Regions from separate parts of the Homo sapiens genome. Here region 2 is linked to region 1. Evidence: fine-mapped QTL for protein levels in blood plasma. A gene starts in region 1. The other region holds a variant in brackets. All regions are shown on one strand. Distances are between the middles of the regions.

What was found. PIP is the posterior inclusion probability: the model's chance that the variant is causal. Sun 2018 read protein levels with aptamers (SomaScan).
Region 2: its variant is fine-mapped to the plasma level of the S100A12 protein (Sun 2018, PIP 0.95).

Annotation. Positions count from the first base shown.
Region 1 is chr1:153,373,990-153,384,902 of GRCh38, reverse strand. S100A12 (S100 calcium binding protein A12) reads left to right here and starts at 9,282. Exons shown (of 3, transcript NM_005621.2): 1 at 9,282-9,351; 2 at 10,291-10,448. The coding sequence starts at 10,311. It also overlaps the pseudogene LAPTM4BP1. RefSeq lists a silencer at 4,349-4,519.
Region 2 is chr1:153,358,778-153,370,233 of GRCh38, reverse strand. It overlaps S100A9 (S100 calcium binding protein A9), which reads right to left. Exons shown (of 3, transcript NM_002965.4): 3 at 9,211-9,590. The coding sequence ends at 9,396. Among named protein-coding and RNA genes, the nearest start is that of S100A9, 6.7 kb to the right of the region's middle. The variant C/T (reference allele first, on the strand shown) is at 4,767.

The DNA.
Region 1 (10,913 bases):
TCATGCAGTTTACCTTGCCATGTAACTCATGGCTAAATCTGACACAGGCTTTGTACACTTCAACTAGAGACTTTTATAGTGACAGTTCCCTGACCGGAGTTACACGTGCTCCCCTGGCTAGTATATTCCTTTGTGGGATATACTGCAGAATACCTGTCACCCTTAGATAGAGCATGCTGTTTTGGAATTTGGGGTCCTCAAGTGTTTGTGCAAAATGACACCGTAAGCTGGAAGGGCTTCTGACATTGCAAGGTTGCCTGACATACTCTGCCAGGAAGGCATTCTGATAGCTGATTCCATTTTGCTGTCTGTGTCCTCCTACTTGGCATAGGTGTACATGCCCTGGGAAAAATGGTACCCAACTTGTCATTGACTACGTCAGTGACAACTAATGCTACCACCTGGACTATTTAGGACCAGTGAGACTCACTGAATGCATTAACTAAGCTGGTGATGAACACCTGAACAGCCTCTGATCATCTGCTGGCAGAGCAGAGTGGCCTTTGGTTGTTGCCAACACCTCCTGCTGTACCTGAGTAAACACCTCAGGGATTGTACAGACACAGGGGAAGGGATCCACAGGCAGACCCAGCCCGTTGGTTTCAAACAGTGAGGCCATCTGAAGGATCCTTCTTTGGCCTTTTTGTAAAAAAAAAAAATTATTTTAGATTCAGGATATACATGTGCAGGTTTGTTACATGGGTATATTGCATGATGCTGAGGCTTGGGCTGCGAATGATCTCATTGCCCAAATAGTGAACATAGTACCTGTTAGGTAACTTTTCAACCCTGGTGCCCCTCCTGCCCTCCCTCCTTTTGGAATCCCCAGTGTCTACCACTCCCATCTTTTTGTCTGTGTGTACTCAGTGTTTAGCTCTCACATATAAGTGAGAAATTCTGGTATTTGGTTTTCTGTTTCTACATTAATTCACTTAGCGTAATGGCCTCCAGGTGCATCCATGTTGCTGCAAAGGACATGATAGTGTTCTTTTTTATGCTTCATAGTATTGACATATATGACATATATGTACTACATTTTCTTTATCCAACCCACCATTGATAGGTACCTGGGTAGATTCCATGTCTTTGCTAATGTGAATAGTGCTTTGATAAACATACTAGTGCAGGTGTCTTTTCCTTTGGGTATATACTCAGTAACGGGATTGATGGGTTGAATGGCAATTCTATTTTTAGTTCTTTGAGAAATCTCCAAAATGCTGAACTAATTTGCATTCTACCAACAGTATATAATCATTCCTTTTTCTCTCCAACCTTGCCAACAACTGTTATTTTTTTGACTTTTAAATAATAGTCATCCTGACTGATGTGAGATGATATTTCTTGTGGTTTTGATTCACATCTCTCTGATGATTAGTTTTTGCATGTTTGTTGGCTACTTGTGTTTCTTTTTGAGAAATGTCTGTTCATGTTCTATGCCCACTTTTTAATGGGGTTATTTGTTTTCTTCTTGTTAAGTTGTTTGAGTTCCTTATAGATTCTGGGTATTAGCCCTTTGTCAGATGCATAGTTTGTGAATATTGCCTCCCATTCTGTAGATTGTCTGTTTACTCTGTTATTAGTTTCTTTCACTGCGTGGAAGCTTTTTAGTTTAATTAGGTCCCATATCAGTTTTCGTTTTTGTTGCATTGCGTTTGAGGACTTAACCATAAATTCTTTGCCTAGAACATGTCTAGAAGAGTATTTCCTAGGTTTTCTTCCAGGATTTTAATAGTTTAAGGTCTTAACATTTAAGTCTTTAATCCATCTTGAGTTAATTTTTGTATGTGGTGAGAGGTAAGGGTCCAGTTTCATTCTTCTGCATATGGTTAGCCAGTTTCCCCAGCACCATTTATTGAATAAGATTTCCTTTCCCCATTGTTTATTTTTGCCAGCCTTGTTCAAGGTCAGTTGGTTGTAGGTATGTGGTTTTATTTCAGTGGTCTCCATGCTGTTCCATTGGTCTATGTGTCTATTTTTGTACCAATACCATGCTGTTTTGGTTACTGTAGACTTGTAGTGTAGTTTGAAATTGGGTAATGTGGTACCTCTGGTTATATTCTTTTTTGCTTAAGATTGCTTTGGCTATTTGTGCTCTTTTTGCTTCTATATGAATTTTAGACGAGTTTTGTAAAGTTGTGTGAAAAATGACCTTGGTAATTTGATAGGAATAGCATTGAATCTATAGATTGCTTTGGGCAATGTGGACTTATTAACTATATCAATTCTTCCAATCCATGAGCATGGCATGCTTTTTCATTTGTTTGTGTCATCTATGATTTCTTGTAGCAGTGTTTTGTAGTTCTTTTTGTAGAGGTCTTTCACTTTGCTGGTTAGATATTTTCTTAGGTATTTTATTTTTTGTGTGTGGCTGTTGTAAATGGAATTGCATCTTTGATTTGGTTCTCAGCTTGAATATTATTGGTGTATAGAAATGCTACTGATTTTTCTATGTTGATTTTGTTTTCTGAGATTTGCTGAAGTTGTTTATCAGGTCTAGGAGTCTTTTGGAAGAATCTTTAGAGTTTTCTGGACATAGAATCATATTGTCAGTGAAAAGAAGTAATTCGCTCTTTTTCAATTTGGGTTCCTTTTATCTCTTTCTCATGTCTAATTGCTCTGGCTAGGACTTTCAGTACTATGTTGAATAGGAATAGTGAGAGTAGACATCCTTGTCTTGTTCCAGTTCTTAGGCAGAATGCACCTAACTTATGCTTATTCAGTATGATGTCAACTGTGGGTTTGTCATAGATGGCTCTTATTATTTTGAGGTATGTTTCTTTGATGTCTATTTTATTGAGAGCTTTCATCATGAAGAAATGTTGAATTTTTATTGAATGCTTTTCTGCATTGATTGAGATGATCATATAGTTTTTGTTTTTAATTCTGTTTATGTGGTGAATCACATGTATTTATTTGCATATGTTGAACCATCCCTGCATTCCAGGAATAAAGCCCACTTATTTGGGAAATCAACTTTTTGATATGCTGCTGTATTTGGTTTTCTAGTATTTTGTTGAAGAGTTTTATGTCTATGCTCATCAGGGATATTGGTCTGTAGTTTTCTTTTTTTGTTGTGCCTTTGCCAAATTTTGGTGTCATGAGGATATTGGTTTCATAGAATGAGTTAGGGAGGAGTCCCTCCTTGATTTTTTGTAATAGTTTCTTTAGGATTGATACCAGGTCTTCTTTGTAGATCTAGTAGAATTTGACTATGAATCCGTCTGATACAGGGTTTTTTGTTGTTGCTATTGTTGGTAGGTGTTTTATTACTGATTTATTTTCATTACTTGTTATTGGTCTGTTCAGAAATTCTATTTCTTCTTGACTCAGTCTTGGGAGGTTGTGTTTCCAGGAATGTATTGATTTCCTCTAGATTTTCTAGTTTGTACTCATAGAGAGGTTCATATCTCTGAGGATCTCTTGTATTTCTGTGGAATCGGTTGTAATGTCACCTTTGTCATTTCTGATTGTGTTTATTTCGATCTTCTCTCGTTTTCTTTGTTAATCTAGCTAATGGTCTATCAATCTTGTTTATCCTTTCAAAAAAGCAAGTTTTCCTTTCACTGATCCTTTGTATGGCTTTTTGGGTCTCAATTCACTTAGTTCTGCTCTTATTTTAGTTACTTCTTTTCTTCTGCTAGCTTTGAGCTTAGTTGTTCTTGTTTTTCTAATTACTTTAGGTGGAGGTTGGGTTGTTAATTTGAGATCTTTCTATTAATATCTTCTTTATATATATATATTTTTTATTATACTTTAAGTTCTAGGGTACATGTGCACAATGTGCAGGTTTGTTACATATGTATACATGTGCCATGTTGGTGTGCTGCACCCATTAACTCGTCATTTACATTAGGTATATCTCCTAATGCTATCTCTCCCCCCTCCTCCCACCCCGCTTGATATAGGCATTTAGCGCTATAAAATTCCCTCTTGGGAGGATAGAGGAGCGAGGCTGGCGGGCACACCGGTGAGCGGGCCGGAAGCCGGAGCAGCCGAGGAGTCTGCAGCAGCCGCGTGGCGGAGTCTGGGCGAGGAGGTCAACGCTCCTGGAAACTTGGGCTCGTCCTCGCGCCTCTGCTCCAGGAGCAATGACGATGGTCACGCCCTGGTCGCACCCTGGATGCGGTTCTACTCCAACAGCTGCTGCCTGTGCCTCCATGTCCGCACCAGCACCATCCTGTTAGGTGTCTGGTACCTGATCATCAACGCCGTGGTACTCCTGATTTTGTTGAGTGCCCTGGCTGATCCGGATCAGTATCACTTTTCAAGTTCTGAACTGGGAGGTGATTTTGAGTTCATGGATGACGCCAATACGTGCATTGCCATTGCGATTTCTCTTCTCATGATACTGATATCATGAGAATTAAGGCTAATTACGTAATTAAGGCTAATTACGAAGCATACAGGCAACACGCATTCTGGATCATCCCATTCTTCTGTTACCAGATTTTTTTTTTTTTCCGAGACGGAGTCTCGCTCTGTCGCCCGGGCTGGAGTGCAGTGGTGCGATCTCAGTTCATTGCAAGCTCCACCTCCCGGGTTCACGCCATTCTCCTGCCTCAGCCTCTCCGAGTAACTGGGACTACAGGCGCCAGCCACCACGCCCGGCTAATTTTTTGTATTTTTAGTAGAGACGGGGTTTCACCGTGGTCTCCATCTCCTGACCTCCTGATCCACCCCCTTCGGCCTCCCAAAGTGCTGGGATTACAAGCGTGAGCCACCGCACCTGGCCCTGTTACCAGATCTTTGATTTTGCTCTGAACACCTTGGTTGCAATCACTGTGCTTGTTTATCCAAACTCCATTCAGGAATACATACGACAACTGCCTCCTAATTTTCCCTACAGAGATGATGTCATGTCAGTGAATCCACCTGTTTGGTCCTTATTATTCTTCTGTTTATTAGCATTATCTTAACTTTTAAGGGTTACTTGATTAGCTGTGTTTGGAACTGCTGCAGATAGATGAACGGCAGGAACTCCTCCGATGTCCTGGTTTATGTTACCAGCAATGACACTAAGGTGCTCCTACCCCGGTATGATGATACCACTGTGAATGGTGCTGCCAAGGAGCCGCCGCCACCCTAGGTGCTGCCAAGGAGCCGCCGCCACCCTAGGTGTCTGCCTAAGCCTTTGAGTGGGCGGAGCTGGGGGCAGCAGCTTGACTTTTCAGATATCTGAGCAATAGTCATGTTATTTCACTTTTCAGGTGAGCTCTCTGCGCTTGTTTGTTGCCGAAGTGCTACTTTTTAAGATTTAGATGTTAGGTTGAAACCTGTAGTTTTCCTCAACATATGCTTTGTTAGAACACTGTGATAGATTGGCTGTAGAATACTTTCTGTAGGATTGGGGGTGTAACAGGCTTCACTAACCCTCCCTAGGAATGTAAACTTCCCCCAAATCTAGATGGACCTAGAGTCAGAGAAGTCTGCTTTCATACCTGTGGGACCCCAAAGTTGGGCAGTTAGTCATACGTTTCTCTCTGTTCCCTCTCTTTTGAAAGTGTAAAATAAAACCAAAAATAGACAACTTTTCTTAAACCTTTCCAATGTAGAGAACAAAATCTTACGAAAACAGGAATGCCAATTCTGTAATCATTTTTCTAATTAGGTAAATAGAAGTCCTTATGTATGTGTTTCAAGAATTTCCCCCATAACATCCTTTATGACAAGTTCAATGGCAGTTTGTGTTTGGTGGTAAAGGATTTTCTCCATGGCCTGACTTAAAACCATTGGAAAGCACCAGGCAGTGGGAGCAGTAACCACCTGATGTCTGTTCTCCTGCATCCCCTGTCCAGGGTCATGGGGCGGCGTGCCTCATCTATGTTAGAGGGTAAAACTGATGTGTTTAGTGCTGCGTGGGATCTGGTGCTCCTCTTCAGGATTCACATCCCCACCCAGGGCCTGCTTTTACTGAGTGTTCTGCCCTAGCCTGGTTCAAGGAAGTCATGCAACTGACTTTATCAAGTGGAATTGGGATATATTTGTTATATATTTACCTAAAAACATGGAAAGGATTTTCCTCCTTCTTCCCCTGCAAGGTACATTCTACAGCTTTGAACTTCCAAGTATGCCTAGTCACCTTTTAAAATGTAAAAGTTTTCAGAAAAATGAGGATTGCTTTCCTTTTATGCACTTATTATCTTGACTACCTAAGTTGCAAGGTATTTTTATATATTCATATGTTCAAAAGCCAGCAACTCTCCTGTTGGTCCATTATTGAATGTGCTGTGAATGAAGTCTTTTGCAATTAAAATGAGATTCGCCCACATCCAAGATGAAAAAAAAAATTCCCTCTTAACACTACTTTTGCTACATTCCAGATGTTTTGATATGTTGTGTTGTGTCTCTATTTTTGTATGTTTCAAAGAATTTTTTGATTTCTGCCTTAATTTTGTTGTTTAACCAAAAGTCAGGAACAAGTTGTTTAGTTTCCATTTATTTGTGTGGTTTTGAGAGTTCCTCTTGGTATTGATTTCTATTTTTATTCCACTGCGGTCCAAGATTCTTGGTATGATTTTGATTTTTTTGAATTTATTGAGATTTGCCTTATGACTGAGCATGTGGTTGATCTTAGAGTATGTTCCATGTGCAGATGAAAATAATATATATTCTGTGGTTGTTGGGTGCATTGTTCTATAGATGTCTATTAAGTCTAATTGGTCAAGTGTCAAATTTAAGTCCATAATTTCTTTGTTAGTTTTCTGCCTTGATGATTTGTCTACTGATGTCAGTGGGGTGTTGTCCCCTGCTATTATTGTGTGGCTGCCAAAATCTTTTCTTAGATGCAGAAGTACTTATTTTATAAATCTGGGTGCTCCAGTGTTGGGTGTGTATTTATTTAGGATGGTTAAATTTTCTTGTTAAATCGAACCCTTTATCACTATGTAATGCCCTTCTTTATCCTTTTTTACTGTTGTTGGCTTACAGTCTATCGGATCTGATTCAAGAATAGCAACCTCTGCTCTTTTTTGTTTTCTGTTTGCATGATAGATCTTTCTCCATCCCTTTACTTTGAATCTACAGGTGTCATTACACATGAGACAGGTGCTTGAAGACAGCAGAAGGATGGGTCTTGTTTTTAAATCGAATTTGCCAAGGTATGTGTTTTAAGTGCAGTGTTTAGGCCATTCACATTGGAGGTTAATATTTGTATGTGAGGCTGTGTTCCTGCTTTTTTGATTTCTATTTTTTTTTTTTGAGAGGGAGTCTCACTCTGTTGCCCAGGCTGGAGTGCAGTGGCGCGATCTCGGTTCACTGCAAGCTCCGCCTTGTGGGTTCACGCCATTCTCCTGCCTCAGCCTCCTGAGTATCTGGGACTACAGGTGCCTGCCACCATGCCTGGCTAATTTTTTGTATTTTTAGTAGAGATGGGGTTTCACCATCTTAGCCAGGATGGTCTCGATCTCCTGACCTCGTGATCCGCATTTAGCAACCTCTTGCCTGGATGGCTGGGATCCTGGGCTAGTCCCTTCTCCAGGCAGATGTGAAAAAAAAAAAACATCTCAGGATCCCAAACTTACTAAGCCAGAGGGAAAAGTCAAGCTGGGAAATGGGTCATGCAAGCCTGCCCCCACCCAGGTTGGTTTCTAAATAAGATAGCTACAAAGATAAAAAGCCATACACCAATCTCACAACTTGCCCACAAGGAAATTCCTTGTGAGCCTCAAGATCTTTACCCTAAAACAGTTCTATTGAATTTCACCCTGGCAGTGTAATTGACAGCTTATCTTCACAGGTGTGGGACAAAGGGCAGAACATAAAGTCATCCCTCTGCTCACCCAAGACAAATCCATATCTGATTGCTTCCTCTCCCCTATTTTTGTTATCTTATGTAAAAATGCAGATTCACTGAGCCAGATGAAGGCATAAGTGACTATTTCCTCTACTCCGCTCCCACATGAAAATTGTGTATTCAGTGAAAGATTGATCAAAGACTCAAAAGGATGCAATCACTTGTCTCTTATCTACTGACACATTTAAAAAATATTTCTTCCTCTTCCCCCAATATCCACTGTTTCTCCTTCAAATATTGAAGCCCTCAAAATCATCTTTGGAGAAAGACGTAGACCTACCTCTGGGCACGCATCCTTAACTTTGGCCAAATAAACCTCCTAAAATGATTGAGATTCACCTTGGTCATTGTCATTGATTTACACAAGCCTGATCATCCTGCTCTGGTGGTGTCCTCCTGGGCCTAGTGAAACAAATACTGTCAATGGCTTAACAATGTTGCACTGAGATTGTGTCAGTCAAGGTGACACATGGATCGGAGAGACAGACTTTTGCCTCCAGATCCAGAGAGGTCGGTGGGCACATGAAATGAACTAGCTTTGCTAAGGGGGATATCTGTGTTGTGGGGTAGATGGCAGCACAGGTTCTGGCATGGCCTTGATTGCTCAGCAATCTTATTGACCTCTAGGCATAAACCAAGGGCAGAGTGCTTTTGGATGTCCCTTAGCTTTGGTGCGACATGGGGAATGTACAGATGAGACTTAATCCATTTTGGGCAGGTTTCTGAATCTTGAAGGACCACCTCTCCATGAATCCTGGGCATCTGTTGTCCCTTGCTGCCTCTCTGTGAGTAATAAAGTTGCTTTACTAAAACTCGTGTGAATGTTCTGTCTTACTGAACTCATGAACATGGTAAAGTAACCTAGGCATGGTGAACTTTCTTCACACACAATGATTACCCTACTCCAGCTTTCTAGGTCTTTGTAACAGCCAAGTTAGAAAGTTGGGAAAGCAAAGGGGAGGCATAGTAGCATTGCTCTCTCCTTTTTTGAAAACCTTGGAATCTATTTTGAAAACTGATCCTCTGCTCCAGTGATGAACTTTGCATCCCAGAACGACTTAGGAGGAGGTCTCCCTACCTATCTCCTTAGCTGCATAAAGATCTTTAAGTTGATATTCCATTTGCCAAAACTGAAGAGCTGGTAACCTCATCTGTTAAAACAAGACACTCAGGCTGTAAAGTTTGTTCTCCTAGTCTTTTATTAGGGAGCAGTGGAGTAGAGCTAAACCTGAAACCTGGGCCCTGGCTCAGGGCTAAAAAAGGTTCAGGGCACCCCTGTGCGGGTGGGTGGAGTGGGGGTGATTTTGTTTCAGGCTGAGCAGGAGGGCAAAATTCAGTCTGGGTACAATCTGGGCTGCTCCTGTGGCAGCCTAAGCCACAGGTTTGAAGCTTCTATTGAGCAACAGAGTACTTTACATAAATTGCCTCAAGATGAATCAGAGATTTCTTCACCCAAGGGCTAAGATGAAGCCTGAACTGATTATAAAACCTTCCTTGGCTCAGTGCCCTTCACCACTGCTGGCTTTTTGCTGTAGCTCCACATTCCTGTGCATTGAGGGGTAAGTGCATTTTCCTTGGATGGGTTCTTAGGTGGTCCACAGGGTAGTGACTGCAGGTGACCACTTTGAAATCACAAGGTGTTGGAAACCACAACCCTCCACTTGCCTGAGCACCTCTGGGGTGATATTGCATTTTGGACCCAAGTAGATCAGCTCTTGTTGTGCTATGTAGACTCAGTCCCATGATTTAAGAATGGCTAAGCAGGCCGGGTACGGTGGCTCACGCCTGTAATCCCAGCACTTTGGGAGGCCGAGGCGGGCGGATCATGAGGTGAGGAGATCGAGACCATCCTGGCTAACATGGTGAAACCCCGTCTCTACTAAAAAAATACAAAAAATTAGCCGGGCGTGGTGGCGGGTGCCTGTAGTCCCAGCTACTCGGGAGGCTGGGGCAGGAGAATGGCGTGAACCCGGGAGGCAGAACTTGCAGTGAGCCGAGATCGCCCTACTGCACTCCAGCCTGGGCGGCAGAGTGAGACTCCGTCTCAAAAACAAACAAACAAACAAACAAAAAACCCAAAACAACAACAACAAAAAAAGAATGGCTAAGCAGGGGTGGGTTATGGACCATTTGTGGGGGATATGTGGCCATAGTGCCATCACCTGAGGAAAGCAAACAGCCTGGCCAATCACAGAACCCTTCCCAAGGGACCTTGAGTAAGCAATACCCTCCAAGTTATGCACCCCGGTGGATGAGGTGGTATGGAACATGGGCAACTGAGGCTGATTTTTTTAGACGTTAGACAGTATTATATGTTTTCTCCTCCCCATCCTATCCACACATGAGAAGTTCACCATGGATCAAACAGAGCAGAGACCACAAAATAGATATGGAGGATGTTATGTTTTCTTTAGGCCCTTGATTCAGAAAGAGAGGGGAGAGTGGAGGTTGAGGGGTGGGGGAGAAACTGCCTCTAGACTTCCCTTGTTTCCTTGAAGGTTAACATTAGGCTGGGAAGATGACAAAACTTGAAGAGCATCTGGAGGGAATTGTCAATATCTTCCACCAATACTCAGTTCGGAAGGGGCATTTTGACACCCTCTCTAAGGGTGAGCTGAAGCAGCTGCTTACAAAGGAGCTTGCAAACACCATCAAGGTAGGTGATGCCCCTCTCACTGCAAACTTGCCCATGACCCTGCACTGAGGGGAGTGGCAAGGCCTGGCAGAGGATGGTGGGACAAGGACTGGGGTGGGGTTGGCCCCAGTTTGAGCTCCCAAAGGATGCTCTCCCCGCTGCTGTGGGAGAGGTCCTTTGCTTCCCTCTCTCAATAACTCACTTAAGGCTCTACTCAGTTCCTCTCTCTGAGTCTGTTTCCTCATATGTAAAATGGAGAGAGGCAGGGCACGGGAGGGGTTGAATGAGTGAGCAGAAGAGTACCTTCCAGGTCAAGCCTTGTTAATTCCAGGGTGGTTCATGACCATTGTGTTCTCTGTTTTGTTACACTGGATTCTCCAACACAGTGTTGGCTAATGAGTTAATGTGCCTGGGCCTTCACAACCCGAGCTCTGAGGGATAAGAGGCCTAAGAAAGGGTCTTGTGTGGAGGTTCTGAACTCAAGGT
Region 2 (11,456 bases), 15 kb after region 1:
TTTCTCCTTCTCAGGGGGAATTGGGTTTTCTTACATACAACTGAGTTTCTGCTTACACATTCTTTAATTTCTTTTAATTCCTGTTCCACCTCTGGATCTTCTTCAGCAGCAGGGGCAGGCCAGGTGGCAAAATTGAAGAATTTTAGAAAGGTTAGATACCCTGCTGGAGGTCAGGCAAGACAGATGTGAGGAAAAGTGGGAAAGGGGGCTTTTTACTGCAGGAGAGTGGGTTTGACTTTCGGCTTATTTACTGTGAAGCCATGTGGAGACAGTGTATGGGAAGCTGGGATTCAGGACAAGTGACAAATGATGAGTCCTGGGCACATGGTCTTGGGGTGAAGCTTTGCTGACCACCCCCATCAAAGGAAACAATTGCAGTTGTGTGGAAAGTGTGCGAGAAAGTAGAAGCCTGTAGATGGGGTTGAGGGGAGAGCCTGAAGATGGGGGTGAAGTGGGATTGGCAGAAAAGGAAGGAATGTGTGACCCAGGGAAGGGAGTCCTGGAATGGCCCAAGCCTGGAAGGCTTCTATCACCAAATGTGAATGAGAATGTGAGAGCATTTGGGGAAAGCCTTCCCTCACTGCATGACCTTGGCCAAATCACTTTGCCTCTCTGGGTCTGTGTTTTCTTTATTTTTGAAGAATTCAAAGGAATTTTAAACATCTATTTTGGAAAGTTTTAGACTAGGTGAATACTCAGGTGTCACCCAGTGTTAGTGCTCTGAGAGACCTCAGTTGGATAGAGGGGAACTTGGTGCAGGGTCTAGAAGGAGAACATCACTTAGTGAGAGGGTAGGAAGGAGGATGTCCCTTGGTGCTAAAGAGTAGCAGTCGAGAGTGTGAGGCTAGAAGTTATGCTTCTGTATTCAAATCCTAGCATTGCCACTTACTAACTGTGAGACCTTGAACAAGTTACTTAGAATCTTTAAACCTCAATTTCCCCATCAGTAGCATGGGGATAACCACAGCACCCCTCTCCCAGAGTTGGTGAGAGGATTAGGTCATCTCCTTTTTTTCCTTTTTTTATTTTTTTATTTTTTGAGATGGAGTCTTGCTCTGTCTCCCAGGCTGGAGTGCAGTGGCGCGATCTTGGCTCACTGCAAGCTCCGCCTCCCGGATTCACGCCATTCTCCTGTCTCAGCCTCCCGAGTAGATGGGTTTACAGGTGCCCGCCACCACACCAGGCTAATTTTTTTGTATTTTTAGTAGAGACGGGGTTTCACCGCGTTAGCCAGGATGGTCTCGATCTCCTGACCTCGTGATCTGCCTGCCTCGGCCTCCCAAAGTGCTGGGATTACAAGCGTAAGCCATGCGACTGGCCAAGATTAGGTCATCTCATAGCACATGGAAAGCACTTGGCACAGTATCTGATGCAGAGTAAGCACTCAACAAACATTAGCAATAACAGTAAGATAATAATTTAGACAGGAGGTAACGATTGTAGCTGACCCACCCTCTGCCACAGCACAATAGGTATAGATTATTTTAAACCAAAGCAGACTGAGGTTATATTTAGGGGTGGCTTGGATAGTTAAAGTTGACCAGTGTAAGATAAGGAACCAAGGGAAGTTATGCAATATCTTCCTCTAAAGGCCTTTGAACTAGACCAAGCTGTTCTGCAAACTAGGCCACTCCCTTGATGCACTTACCTTGATTTGGGACCACTTCTGATATATATAGTAGTATTAGAATCTGTTAAAAAAAAAAACAACAAAAAAACCAACAACTAACCGATGAGAGCAAAAGTCCAGCACATTTGCTATTGTGAAAACATTCACCAGCTGTAATTTTGTTTCCAAATAGCCCACTGAACCACAAATTGAACTTAAATCATGGCTAGAAAAATTTTAAGGGCTGCTAACCTTGGTCAAAATCCATCAGTCAGCGGCACCTAAGGACAATGACAAGGGCCCTTGACTTGGAATCAAATGAGCTTGGTTAGACTCCCAGCTCAACTGCTTGGCTCTGTGAGTTTGGGCGAATGGCTTCCCTTCTCTGAGCCTCAGTTTTTTCATGTATATAGTGTGCTGTTTGCACAAGTGATCTCCAGTCCCTTCATGAATACACAGAGACTAGACCCTGTGACTGTGGCTGGTGTCGTGGAACAAGCAAATGAACACAAGCACTGTTAGATCCACAGAGCCCAGGGATTGGCCCTGTTGCTTCTGGAGGCCCTGTCTCACTGTCACCATCTGTCCACCCCCAGAGGCCCTATTCTCCAGCCACTCTAGAACAGTCTCTAGTTTCTCCACGGCTTTGAAACTTCTTGGGTTTTGCTCCTGCTGTCCTCTTGTTCTCTTTGTCTGAAGTGCCTTTTCATCCCTTCATTCACAAACATTTTTTTGTGTCTGCTCTGTTGCAGACACTAGGCTACCTGGGCCCTTCTCTGGCTCTAGAACACCTGCTTATACACCATGGCCTGACTCAACCGTCACATCCTCCAGGGAGCTCACCTGTTCATATCTTCCTCATGTATTTCCATCAAGAGTAGACTTTAGGCCCCTTCCAATTTGGGGCTGACCTCCCTCTTCTGCTCACTGGCTGCTGCTGGAATGATGAGCCTGACAAAGCTGTCTGGGCAAAGGCATTACTGAGTGATAAAGGACACCAATAACACTCTTTTGGGTGCTATATGTGCAATACTTTGCCCTCAGGAGGATATTTCAGGCAGGCTTCCAGTACACCACAAGCCAAGCCATGCCAGCCTGTGCATCAGGCTCTTGGAGCTCAGGAGAAGGATCTGGGCTCAACAAAATGACTATCAGAAGCCCCTGATGTGAGAATGGCTAGGTCTCATCATTTTGACTTGGCCAACACAAGAAGCCTTTCAAGTTTTAAGATAAAGCAAACTAAAAATCTGGAGGGCAAGAGCCCTTACTTCCTATGTTTCTCTGATTTCTTTTATTGCCTAACACAGCACTGGGCACATGGAAGTGCAATTCTTGCCCTCTGAAAACTCAGCTTGGGCATTAGTCCAAGCAAGCTTTCCTTCTCTCTCCTTCCCTCTACCCCTGCCCCCCGGCTCCCCTCTACCCCCTCCCCCACACCACAGCCAATAAGACGGCAAAAAGTGCCTTCTGTACTCTCTGGGCATCTTGTGCTTATCATCTGCCTTTGCTTGTCTTTTGCCCACAACATTGTATTATAGAGAAAATATCTGGTAATTGTGCCCCCACTGGACTGAGGGCTCTGTGAAGGCAGGGAATCTAGCACACTATTTGACATAAGACCAGGCTCATCAGCCTCCTAACTGGTCCTCATGCTTCTACTCTGGGGTTCTCCAGGCTACCCTCCACACAGCTGCCGAATATTCTCCTCCAGATACATCATATCACATCACCTGCCTGATTAAAACCCTCCAAAGGCTCTCCAATGTGTTTGGGGTGAAATCTTCGTTGAGATGGCTTCTTGTCATCCAGGCCTCATTTCCAGTGTTGCTTCCTTGCCTGGCTGCCGGCCCACAAAGCAGTCCTGTTAGCATGTCCCCTTTATTTTCTTTGTGCAACTCATCACCATCTAAAATGATCTGGGCTATCTATTTCTTGACTTGCCTCTTGTCTGACTCTCCCCTAGACGCAGTTTTGTTGACCCAGCACCTATAACAGTGCTCTGCATTTAGTTCTCACTCAATGAGTATTTGCAGACTGAATAGCTGATGAATGTTGGCTTCTTTGCATGGAGCTGTTTCCTACCAGAGGGAATGAACACCTGGAGTAGAATGCGAGGGCGATGCTTGAGGCAGTGCTGGGAGAGTGGGAGGGCCTGGCAGCAAATGAGCCACACCACAGCGGGTTTGGAGGCCTTGCCCCCGGGGGTGGGCTCCTCTCCCTGGACCCTGGTGATATTTGAAGGCAGCTGTCATGGCTCCCTTGCTTACCTTTTCCAGACTTGATTCCCCAAGACCTTCAACAATTTTCCCTTGTGATTGTCTCCTTTCATTATGAGGAGTAGACTCGAAACTGGGACATCTTGTGTTTTGAGGGAGCCATTTCTGGTTAGATATGACCCGTAGTTACTTCACAAAGGTTAGATATGACCCCTAGTTGCTTCCCTGAAAGCACTCAGCCACATAGAACTGCATTTTACCACAGAGGACAGGAGGGCAGAAGGCAGTAAGTGAGAAAAAGCTCAGGGAGAGGATGTAGAAAAGGTAAAGAGAGAAAGAGAGGGGGCAAATCAAGAGGGAAAAGGTTGGGGGAGAGGCAGGGGAGAGGAGGGAGGATCAGACTCCAAGTCAAGGCGGGGGATGCTGAAGGTGCGGGCTGCATGCTGGAATCCTGCTGCCCCTGCCGCCCCTGCTGGTGGCCACCCTCCTCTTCCTCTTCACCTCGGGTCTTGGCAACAAACCCCTTCCTCACTGTACAGTCTGCATGCAGCAATTTTGGGTACGTGGGCAAGAGTGGGAGAACTCATGCAGAAAAGGAAAGCCTAGATGTAGTTGTTTTGAGCCAGCACCAATAGCGGTGCTCTGTGTTTAGTTGGGACTCTGCATTCCGTGGGACACTCAGGATGGAGGCCAGCTGGCTGTCGCTCAGGGGCTCCCTTTCCCTGTCTCCTGTGTCTGGGAGTGGATCTCTGAAGACAGGGGTGATCTAATCATCCAGGGACTGATTGTCGTCTTAGGATAGAGAAACTGTTTCAGGTCAGAGCCCCAAGGGGCAATAGGACTTGAGAAACCAGTTGTTTCAGTCCTGCTGTCACTTTGGTAATTGGAGTGTCAAAATCCATGACACGGGGCTTTCTAAAATATATGTTTTAAGCAACTGC[C/T]GGAAGAGGGGGCAGTGCATTGGGGTTGGATTATGGAGCTTACTTCAGGGCAGGGCTGCATCAGGGTTGTGTAAGGTTGGCTCACCGGGCTGGTGAAAGCTGAGATCTTCCTTCCTGGAAAGGTCTTGGCAAACAGCATGAAATGATCTTATTTATCATGTTGCAGTCACACCTCTCCTAATTGAGGTGAAGCTTGGGGTAGTTTGAGGCTCTAGCTTTACTTTTTCTGAGAAGCACCGCTTGGACTCTTAAGTGCTCACCTGGGCTCTTGCAACAGACTCCCCACAGGCCATGTGCCTGGGGTCTCATTCCCACCCCAAACCCATCCCATAAAACACAGATAGAGAAACTTCTATGAAATGCAAATGTGATTATATCATTGCCCTCCCTGAAGCCTTCGGGGCTCTGCCCCTGTTCTGCTGAATGGAGTGTGAGTTCCTTGGCCTGGTACCTATCCTGTTCTCATCTGTCTCTCTTACCTCTCCCTGCCACGCCCCCAGTGCTCCTCATTCGCCCTCAAACCCCACGCCTGCCCATTTCCAGGCCTTTGCATACATGGTCTCCTGAAGCACCTTCATGTTTATCCCGGGATGTCTCCAGGTACCAGCCTTGATGTCACACTGATACTTACCCCTCCATGGAGATGGCCCCAGTGAAGGGCATCATTCCCACCTCAAAGTCCCACCGAGCTACATCCCACCGAAATCTTTTAGCTGGACCTCCCTGGCCTCTCATTTTCCACATCAGATTAATTTGAGGAGCTGTCTTGTCTCCCTGCAGGCCCGAGAACTCTTTGACAACATGGACAAGCTTTATTTATCATGAAGGCCCCTCAGCATTATACTGTGCCTGACACATAGTAAGTCTGCAGTTAATGTCTGTTGAGTGAATGAAGGGACATACAAGTGAGTGGACAAGTGAATTCATTTCTCCCCCAAGTTCTGGAGCCATCCCACCACCACCCAGGCCCCAGACCACATTCAGAGCACTGTGAAGTGTCTGGGAAGAGTTTAGCAGCTTAGACTACTTCTGATCCTTCCTCATTCCTCCCAGGAAGGCATCTAGCAGTTCAGGTTCCACTGCTAACACCAGCCTGGAGGGCAACTCATTGTTGCAGGAATTGTTGGATAGTCATCTGAAGACAGGTTGTCTCTGATTCTTTAGTCACCATGGTGCTGGGAAAGTCCCCAAAGGTCATGTTTCCCCAAAGGACTCATTAATCACAGAGATAGCTACTGATTTCCACTTGGAGTGGGAATCTTAACCTTGACATGGACATGGACATGCTTGCTCTCTCTATCTGAGAAAAGAAGCCCACTCTGCTCTACTCAGCAGAATGAGGTTTTTTTTTTTTTTTTTTTTTTTGAAATGAAAGAGGCTAATGGGAATGAAGAGGTTAAGTCACCTTGATGAGTTCTGTTCAACTACGTTTAAAGAAAATTCCGCAGGGTGCAAGTGGCTTGTTGTCAGACCTTCCCCCAGGGTCTGAAACAATTGCCTACATGCAGACTGAGTTACTAGAGACAAGGTAAATGGAAGAATCCTTGTTACCTGAGGAGGTCTCTGGGTCATCCTGCCACTCAGCTGCTCTGCTCTCTGCCAGCCCCAGGTCTCCAGACAGCTGGCACCCCCAACCCCAGTTCCTGAGAGCCACTCCTACCTCACACCCACATTCGAGCAAAGCACCCATTTCTGCTCTAGAACCATCCTATCTTCACTTTGTGGATGAACAAGTGGATGGTCCATGCTGGGATCTTGAATGTGGGGGAAAATCAGCTATAGTCCCTGCTTTCAGGGGTTCATAGTCTTGGCAAATGAGTATTTGCCATTCAGTATTTGAAGTGCAATGGTGGAATTGTCAGAGTTCTGTGGGCCTGGAGGAGGAAGTCCCTATCTTCTTGAGAAGGGTGGATGGTGAGGAAGCAGTAACACTTGTTCCAAGGCTTGATGGATCCTAAGGGACTTACAAGAGACACCAGGATGGAGCACAGCATTTTTGGTGCAAAGGTGAAGAGGCTGGAGAAAGCCTGGATGTAATTTAGGGAAGGCGTTTTGAAGAAGTGGAGGAATAAACATGTGGATGGGAGGATGGATGATAAGGGGTTAGATTTGTTCTGTGTCCTCAAAGGGGAGGAAAAGTAGGACTAATGCTGGGTGGGCATGAGGAGATGGATTTCAGCTCAGTATAATGAGGGACATTCCAAGTGTCACTCCCAAAGGGGGAAACTCTCCTTTCCTGGAGGAATTCAGGCAGGGTTGGTTCAGTCACTTGGCAGGGATGTTGGCAAGAATCACTCTAGAGTGTGGGTGGGGCAGATTGGATTAAGTCCATAGTTTTCACACTTTTTTCAAGACAAATCTCTTCCTTCAAATCAAATTGGTCTGATTGAACAGGGGGTGGAGGGGCCCTCCGATTCCATCAACTTGCTGCTCCTTACCTTCAGGTTTGAGATTCTGTAATGCTAATGCAGAAGCCTTCCATTTGCAGGTTTTGATCTCCTCTTGCTTTTTTTTCTCCACATCATCCCTTGAGAAGAGAGCATAGAACACGTGAGAAACCTAGGCCATTATACAGGCAATATTTGCTGAGAACCTTCTATGTAGCAGCCACTACTCTAGGTGCTGAGAATAAATCAGAAAAAAAAAACAGATGGACTTTGCTCTCTTGGAGTTATCAGTCTGGAGGGGTAGGCAGAGTCATAAACATATTTAGGCACATTGTGATAAGTAGTGGTGGGCAGAGGGCCTAGGGGGAGCACTTACCACCCTACTGGAAGCATCTGGTCTAAGGCCCTCCAATCCCCAGGATGCTTCTCTCTCCTCATTACCAAGCTGTGTTCAGAAGGGAGTGAAGACAGTGACTCCTCCCTGGATGTGAGCATGGGAGCAGAAGGGCTGTCAGAAAATGAGTGTCCCCAGCTGTCAGGTCTCCAAGTCAGGCACAGAAGGGACTGAGGAGGGCTTCTAGACTCTGCTGCCTAAGCTCTCAGCCTGAGACAGTTCCTGGAAACATCCTCATACCCTCGAGTGGGAGCCCTTAAAACCCTGCACCCAGAGCGGAGCCCCCAGGCCCTTAAAGCAGGAGTCTGCAACAGGCAGGTTGGGGGCACAACCATAGCCAGGCTGTGAGGGGAGGGCTGAAATCCAACACTGGCAGCTCTATATCTTCCTGCTCTGCACTGGGGAAGGGGCTGGGGAGGTGCAGCCAGTGGGGCAGATATGATTCAAGCTACTTTTCGTACTGCATTATTTTGAGCAACTCTGTCATTTGTGTGACTTTGGACTAGTCTCTTCTCCATATTACACCTCGGTTTCTTCACTTATGAAAAGGGAGAGTAGGTGACTGCTAGTCTTCCCAGCTTCCCCAGATCCTAATTCTGTGAGTCTTCTTTCTGCTGAAAGGACAGGGGTCAGAGGACCTTGATCTGGACTCTGGTTTTTGGAAGGCCAAACCCCACTGGTTATAACCTAGGAAAGGGACTTTATAGCCAAAGGGCAGGAAGATGGCAGAGGAGTCCCTGAACTGAGCACTTGGATCTGGGGCAGCTTGAAGGGGGAGCTGCAGCAGTAGCCCTGAGGCAGCTAGGGCCAGGCCTGGTAGTAGGCTTTGCAGAGAGAAGCAGATACTTGTGCTGGGCCCAGCTCTCAGCTACCCACCAGAAAGGACAGCTGGCCCTCAAAGCTTAAAATCAGAATCTTCAGACCCCCAGGCTCTCTGGACCCAGAGCACAGACTCCTCCTGGTAGTCACGGAGTCTTTTAGCTGCAGAGCCCGGACTGGAGCTCATTTCTTCACTCTGCCATTCTGTTGAGACCAGGGTGGGCATAGGGCTAAGCTCTCAGACTCCCACTTGTGTGAGCACTCCCGTTGATTAGGGTGGCAGGTCTGTTAAGAGAGATCCAATTGCTCTCTTGGATCCAGAAAAAGTGTGAGAGTAAACACACCGGATCTGTCCTTGTTTCCACTGCCTGGGTGCCAGTATTCCTCCCCAGACATGGCACTATCTAGGTCCATTTCTGGAAGACTTTCAGAGGAATAGAATTCTGTTAGGAGAGAGAGAGGGCTGTGTAGACAGTGATGGGTGAAGACAGGCTTGGGGCTGGTTGGTGAGGTAGCAGGCATATCAAGGGGTAGAGATATGCCTTTTTGCTTTCTACAGTGTACAGTGACAAGGGCCATTTGTCAGGCTGGACAGGCTGGACAGGGTGTCTGAGATGGGGCAGGGAGCCTGGGATCTGAACAGTGGGGCCTGAAGTCAGAGGTGAGGACATGGTCAGGGAGGTGAGCCCAAGGGGCCCAGCACAGACCCATGTTTTGCTGCTTCTCATTTTGTTAATACTGAATGAGGGGGCTGAGTCACAGATAAGGACAGGGCTGTCTAATGCCCAGAGCCCTGGGAAGGCAGGGTTGGAGAAGAGGTGGAAGAAGCACACAGAGCACTGACTTGGAGGAAGAGACTTTATTTGGCCCCAGCCCCTAGCCCCACAGCCAAGACAGTTTGACATAACAGGCCCCGGGGCCCTGGTTGGGTAGAGGCAGGGTGGCCTGGCCTCCTGATTAGTGGCTGTGGCCGTGGCCACCATGACTGTGGCCGTGGCCGTGGCCACTGTGATCTTGGCCACTGTGGTCTTAGGGGGTGCCCTCCCCGAGGCCTGGCTTATGGTGGTGGCCAGGGCCCTCGTCACCCTCGTGCATCTTCTCGTGGGAGGCCCAGGTTAGCCTCGCCATCAGCATGATGAACTCCTCGAAGCTCAGCTGCTTGTCTGCATTTGTGTCCAGGTCCTCCATGATGTGTTCTATGACCTTTTCATTCTTATTCTCCTTCTGCGGGTGGGGAGAGAAGGCTGTGAGAGCTGGGTGTGGCCAGAGGTGGGGACTGGGAGCACAGTAAATGACCAGCTGGCAAATGTACAAGGGAAGCCTCACCCTGGGGCTGGATTTAAAAATTAAAAATGACCATAGGCTGAGTGCGCACAATGGAGCAGACACTGAGCACATACCAAACGCTCTCCAGTTTATTCCCTCCATGACCCTGTGACTTGGGTGCTGATTCTCTATTTATAGAAGAGGAAGCTGAGTTCCAGGGTCTTGCCCTGGTCATGGCATGAGTAAGCCTGGAAATGTCACCTCATTTGGTCCTTATAACAACTTTAACAGCTAGGAATGGTATCTTCCTGGAGGAAGACTTGAAACCAGTCCTAGAGAGGGTCATTAGTTTTCACAGCTTGACTATTGAGGGCATGCAAATTCAGATCTGACTTAGAGGCCAGTTCCACTCTGCTACCCCTCTGCACTTCACTCCTTCCCCTGCCCTCCCTTCCCTTCCCTCTGGAGGTTACCAATTAGTGAAACTTATTTCAACCAATACAACGGGGAAACACCTAGAAAAACTAGGTGTGGGCAGGGGAGATGGAGGGTCAGAGAGCAGAGTATGTGCTCCGCTGACCTCAAGGGTGTGATAAAGTATAAAAGGGGAGATGGTCGGACAGGGTGGCTCATGCTTGTAATCCCAGCACTTTGGGAGGCCGAGGCAGGCAGATCACCTAAGGTCAAGAGTTCGAGACCAGCCTGACCAACATGGAGAAACCTTGTCTCTACAAAAAATAACAAAATTAGCCAGGCATGGTGGTGCATGCCTGTAATCCCAGCTATTCTGGAGGCTGAAGCAGGAGAATCGCTTGAACCCAGGAGGTGGAGGTTGTGGTGAGCCGAGATTGTGCCGTTGCACTCCAGCCTGGGCAATAAGAGCGAAACTCTGTCTCAAAAAAAAAAAAAAAAAAAAAAAAAGGAGAGACATCAGGGGAGGTGGAAGACCCAGACCCAGGCGGGGTCCAAGAGAGCACTGGTTGGTTCCAGCTCTGCCACCCTCTGGCTGAGTCACCTCGCTAAGTCCCCTCCCAGAACCTGTGGGGTACCCAGCCAATGCGAGCACTCTCCTGTGCAGCCCATCCATGAGGCTCTGCTTCCTTTCCCACAGCATCGCTTTGCTTCTGGTGGGGGATGTCAGGTGGGGGGTGAAGCGGGCATAGGGGGTCACATGGAGGATAGTTTTGCCATGCGGCCTCTCTGCTGGGCCCTTTCTTGCCTACCCCACCCAGCATCCTGCCTGCCTGAGGCCTCCACCTATGGAGAGCTGTCAGGGCCCCTAACTCTGAAGGCTGCAATTCTCCACCTTACCAAGGCGGAGGGAGGGGCACTGGGAGGGCTGGGGACCTACCCCAGGATGTCTGGCTCCGGGACTGGAACTGAGACTGAGACCCATGTGTTCCACCCTTCTTAATGCAGGCCTCTGTTTCCCGACTTTCCCCAAATTTGAAAAGAAAACAAAAAGGCTGTTGGAAGTGCTCAGCCTTTTTCTTAGAACTGCCTAATCATTTTTGGAGCGGGGGAAAAACCTCCCAGTTCCCTGAGTGCTGTGCAGGTGCTCTCCATGTGCTCTTTATGCATTCATTTTCCACCGCAGACCCTTAGGATTAGAAAAGCCCCCAAGTCTTCCACCCCAAGTTCCCGCCTGAGGCTTAGGGTCTCCTCAGCTTTGTGCCAAGTGTCATCCTCAGGGGCTTCCCTCCCCAACATTCGGGGCTCAGCTCAAATGTTACCTCCTCAAAGAGGCCCTTCTCATGTACCCTAACTGGTCACCTCCACCCCACCCAGCCCCATTGCCCACAGCGCACTCTATCTCATTTTCTT